Regions from separate parts of the Homo sapiens genome. Here region 2 is linked to region 1. The links come from fine-mapping of genetic effects on gene expression. A gene starts in region 1. The other region holds a variant in brackets. All regions are shown on one strand. Distances are between the middles of the regions.

Region 1 (3,024 bases):
AGCCCCAAGTGGTGTTAGAGGTGTTTTTTGTCTTTTCTCCCTTTCGTGCTGAGGTGTAGCACACACGGTGCGCCCTACAGCATGGTGAGTTGCTGTATCGTGAACCCTCACGCAGCCATTGCCCCACGCTGGTGTTTTCCATCTGTGCGTCACCCCCGGAGACACCTACACACATAAGGAGGGAGTTGGCCGGGGCACCCCAGCACACACTGGCCTAACTCCAAGGAGGCACCTCATCTCTTCTGGAGCCCCTTCCCACAGGCAAGGGGATTCAGAGGGAGCATGTTGGCCTGGCCGCCTTCAGGCTTCCAGAGTCCCAAGTGACTTTCCTTGATGTCCTTCTCTCCATCCTCTGCACAGAGGCAGCCTTCCCTCCTCTTATCCCTGCCATGGGGTTTGGGAGGGGGAGCCTCAAACTCTGACAGGGAGGAGTCGGAGTCCCCAGCTAAAATTCTCTGGGTCTAGAAACAGGTGTAAAGCGATTCTGGGGATGTGATTTGGGAGAAAAGCACACTTTCCACACAGAGGCGGTCAGGAAAGGAGCGGGGAGGGGAGAGTGGGGCACAGGCAGCGCCTCCCGTCTATGCGCCTGTGTGCAAAGTGGCACAATGCCCCCCTTCCTATTGGCAGTGCAGCCCCTGGCCAGCAACCACTCGCACCTGGGCTGGGGGCCTTTGTGTAGGGCACACCTGTGCAGCCACACCTACTTGTAGAGCCTCATAGACTCAGCTGTGGACAAAAGCCTCACGCCCCAAACAGGGAAATGGGATCTCAAGGGGAAGAAGCTGGGGAGGCCTCACACCCTGCCCCCATTTCCTCCTATGTGGGGGAGGGGAGCAGCACGAACTCCTGAAGACTTGGGAGCGTCAGCAGCTTCTGCGGAAGGGGTGGGGCTGAGGGTGGAGAGAGGAAGGGAAGGAAGAAAAGGGGAGCCTTCCTGGCCAGGGTAACCGGCACTAAGAGGCCTCACTCCAAGCCCCCGAGGAGCCTGTGGTGGGGCTGGAGACCCGGCTCAGGCCCCTCCACCACCCTTAAAGTCCTCAGAAGGTGGGAACTGAACTGGCACAGGATGGGAACCGGCTGTGCGCTGGCCACTTGATTTTGCCAGCTGCCCTGTAATTCAGCTGGTGAGGAAACTGAGGCACAGACTGAGGTAGAATGATTCGCCAGTCACTCAGCAAGTCAGCAGACGGGGAGGACTGAATCCCAGCCTGAGAGCACCGAAGCTTGTATCCCTGCAATACCGAGCCCCAAGCCTGCGAGCCCCGGTGCCCATCTCTGAGTTAGGCCGTCTTGGAAGGGTTCCCTTCCTCCTACAAGATGGTGTGTGAGGAGCCTTCAATACGACCCGGGGTGTAAAGTGTCCAACTCTAGTAGGGGCCTGATGGCATCCCCGCCGAGTCCCAGGAGAGAGAGAGAAGACCCCTTCCTGGAGTCCAGGGCTCCCGGGAAGAAACACTGGCATTTGTCCCTTTGCTTCGGCTTCTGGAGGCAGAGACTCTGAGCCCAGGGAGAGCCTTCTGCAGCCCCATTTCCTCAAAAATCCAACCTGCCCAGGTGGCGGGTCATGAGCTGTGCTCAGGAAGCTGGAATCTGACCCTGGTGGCGTCGGGCCCAGTCTCCATGGCAGCCGAGCATTTATTACCCGGGCCTCCACCCAGCTTGGCAGACTTTAGACTTGAGGCTGGAGGAAAGGGAACTGAACGCGGTTCTGGGAGCAGCAAGCCCACGGGTAGCAGCCGAGGCCCCAGAATGGTGAGTGTGAGGGTCTGTGTCGGCCTGGCCAGGGCTGGGGGCGTGAACCTCAGGTGGAGCCCTCCCCTGACTGTTTTCCTTTCTCTGCTGCAGGCCAAGTTTCTTTCCCAAGACCAAATTAATGGTAGGTTGGGTTTGTTCTTTGATTAGCAACTCAGCAAAATATGGGTCTCATTAGGCAATTTGCTCTGCTCATGTTTTCTTGGTGGGAAGGAAGGTGGCTGTGGGAGAGCTGGGCCCACCCAGGGCCAAGAGCTGCGGGGAGGCTGCTGTTGGCGGGGTGGGGGTTGGGGGTAAGCCTCCAAAATAGACATGTGGCTTTATACTTGTCAGTGTGACTTACAAGCCAGGGCGCTAAGACAGAACTTACTAGGTTTCCCTCCAGAACCTGACCAGTTGGATTTGGGGACTGAGGGGACTGGGGATGGAGAGAGAGACCATTAAAGGTATGGCTGGCAGCAGGGAAAGAGGAGGGGCTTTGTAATTGAGACAGAACAGAGGCCAGGTCTGCACTCTCTGGCAGGATGCGTCTACTCTCTGCGCCTCAGTCTCCCTATCTGTAAAATGGAGGGTCCACTGAGCCCCCTTTGCCCTGGCATCAAGCCTGGTTTGGGCGTGAGCACTTTATTCCCTGGGTCCCCTACTCTGCCAGCCCTCGACCAGGCTTCAGTTTCACACCGTGCAGGGTTCTATTTCCAGAAGGCCAAGAGCAAAGAGTTGCGTTACAAAGAACTTGGGGGCCCAGACCTGAGCCAGGGGAGCCTCATGGCTGCAGCCCCCCTGCACCTGGCAGGAGAGGCCCAGGAGGCACAGCCAGCTGCTGCTTGAGGTTGTGACCCTGAAACCTGTCCCAACAGTGGACGTCAATGGGCCTGAGAGTCCCCCGAGGCATCCCATTCCTCCAGGTCTTTGCTGAAACATCGCCTTCTCAGTGAGTCCTTCGCTGACCACTGGAGATAAAATTACAGGCACCTTGGGCCCTTGTGATCCAGGGTAGGGTCCTGAGAGCCCAGCCAAGTGGGGTTAGGGTTACCTGGGCAGGAGTTCCAGAGTTCTGGGTATTCTGAGCTTGGTCCAGAGGGGCAGGAATTGTGAGCTCCAGGTGGGCACCTCCACGTAGAACCCTGGAACTCTTTATCCCAAGAGGAGGGCCAGGGCAGGAGCAGGGACTTTTAAAACACAGGGCCCGGGGCAGTGCCCTCTTGTCCAGGTCTAACGGTGATAATGAATGGTGGACTGAGGGCTGGAGTCCAGCCTTCAGCCTCAGCA
Region 2 (2,500 bases), 310 kb after region 1:
GAAGAACATAAAACAGAGGAACAAGTTGCAAGCAAATAATTAATGTTAGAATTAAATAAAAATAATAACTAACAAAAAGTGATGAAAAATCAATGACCATTTACATTATATTAAATGTAAATGGACTAAATGCTCCAATTAAATGACAAAGATTGTCAGGCTATATAAAAAACAACAAAGCCCTACTGTATGTTTACAAGAAACAACTGTAAGATATAAGAATACAGAAAGTTTGAAAGTTAAAACTGACAAAATTGTCTTCAAAGCAAAAAAGCATTACTAAATAAAGAGGAACATTCCATAATGAAAAAAAATTTGATTCTAGAAAGATAAAGTACATCTAACTTTATTTATACTCAATATTTAGCCTCAAAGTACATAAAGCAAAAATAGAAACAAAAAGGAGAAAAGACATATTCACACAGGCTTACTTTAAAACACTTCTCTCCTTAAGTGATAGAACAAGCTGTCAAAAGTTAGAAGGATATAGAAAATTTGCATATGATTAGCAAACTTGACCTTATTGACAACTGTAGAACACTGCACCCAATAAACAAGATGGAATCATGTAATTGAATACAAAGAACATTTATTAAAATTTACTACATGCTACGCAATAAAATAAGTCTTAACAACCTCTAAAACATTGAAATCATAAGGAGTAAATTTGACTACACTTCAATTAAGCTAGAAACTAATAACAAAAAGGAAATTGGAATACTCTCATGTATCTGGAAACTAAGAATGCTTCTTCTTCTTTTTTTTTTTTTTTGAGACAGAGTCTCGCTCTGTGGCCCAGGCTGGAGTGCAGTGGTGCAATCCCGGCTCACTGCAACCTCCGCCTTCCAGGTTCAAACAGTCCTCATTCCTCAGCCTCCTGAGTAGCTAGGATTACAGGCTGCACCACCACATCCAGCTAATTTTTGTATTTTTGGTGGAGACAGGGTTTCGCCATGTTGACCAGATTGGTCTCAAACTCCTGGCTTCAAGTGATTCTTGGCCTCCCAAAGTGCTGGGATTATAGGCATGAGCCACTACGCATGGCCTAAGAATGCTTCTTAATTGAACCAGGATGGTTAAAGAACAAGTTATGGTGGAAATCAGAAAATATTTTGAGATGAATGATAATGAAAGTATGACATATCAGAACTTCCTGTGCTTAGAGAGAAATGTATAGACTTATAAACACATATATCCCAAAACAAGAAAGGCTGAAAATCAATTACCTAAGCATATACCTCAGGAAGTAAGAAAAATGTCAGCCAATAAATTTTTTGTTTTGTCTCGCTCTGTCCCCCAGGCTGGAGCACAGTAGGGCAATCTTGGCTCACTGCAACCTTTGCTTCCTGGGCTCAAGCAATTCTCCCATCTCACCCTCCCAAGTGGCTGCAAGT[A/G]GCTGAGACTACAGGCTATCCTCGGCTTCCAAATATCAATCTTACCAGTGAAATGTTGAAAGTGTTCCCTTTGCGACCATGAATAAAGCTACTTAAGACATTGTACCAGAGGTCATAGCTAGTATAATAAGGCAAAAAAAAAAAAAAAAAAAAAAAAAAAAAATATATATATATATATATATATATATATATATATATATATATATATATATGTGAGAGATATGAGGCCTGGATAGAAAGAAACAAAACTGTCATTATTAGAATTAATAAGTGAATTTAGCAAGGACGCTAGGTATAAAATCAATTTACAAACATCACTTACATTTCTACACAAAAAGATGTAGGATGTTTATGGACTGGATATTCATGGATTGGCTACTGAATAACATAAAGAGGTCAGTTCTCCCCCAATCAATTTACAGGGCCAATGCAACCCCAGTGCCAATCCTAATAGGCTGTTATTGTGGAGATTTTCTTTTTTTCTTTTTTCTTTTTTGAGACAGGGTCTTGCCCTGTCACCCAGGCTGGAGTGCAGTGGCCCAATCACAGCTCATTGCAACCTCGACCTTCAGGCTCATGTAATCCTCCCACCTCAGCCTCCTGAGTAGCTGGGACCACAGGCATGTGCCACCACACCTGGCTAATTGTTATATTTTTTGTAGAGATGGGGTGTCACTATGTTGCCCAGGCTGGTCTCAATCTCCTGGGTTCAAGCAATCTTCCCGCCTCACCCTCCCAACGTGCTGGGATTACAGGCATGAGCCTCCACGCCAAGCCAAGATTTTCAAACTGATTCTAAAATGTATCTGAAAATTCAGAGAGCCTAAAATAATCAAGACATTATTAAAGAAGACGAACAAAATGGGAGGAGTTACAAACAATTAACAAGACTCATGAAGCCATGGTAATTAAAACAGTGTAGTATTGGAACAAGAACAAACAAATAGACCACAGAACAGATTGAAAGCCCAGAATCAGACACATGAACTTGTTGTCATATGATATACCACAAAGGTGGCACTGTACTGCAGTAGGGAAAGGAAAGTCTTTTCAGTACATGGTACTAGGTCAACTAGATATTTATATAGGAAAAATGAAAATTACCT

What was found. PIP is the estimated chance that this variant, and not a neighbour inherited with it, causes the effect.
Region 2: its variant is fine-mapped to the expression of CALML4 in whole blood (TOPMed, PIP above 0.99).

The regions. Positions count from the first base shown.
Region 1 is chr15:68,203,976-68,206,999 of GRCh38, reverse strand. CALML4 (calmodulin like 4) reads left to right here and starts at 1,668. Exons shown (of 5, transcript NM_033429.3): 1 at 1,668-1,755; 2 at 1,849-1,879. The coding sequence starts at 1,753. CLN6 (CLN6 transmembrane ER protein) reads left to right here. Exons shown (of 7, transcript NM_017882.3): 7 at 1-8. RefSeq lists an enhancer at 675-969.
Region 2 is chr15:67,893,090-67,895,589 of GRCh38, reverse strand. No RefSeq gene overlaps it. Among named protein-coding and RNA genes, the nearest start is that of RNU6-1, 54 kb to the right of the region's middle. The variant A/G (reference allele first, on the strand shown) is at 1,395.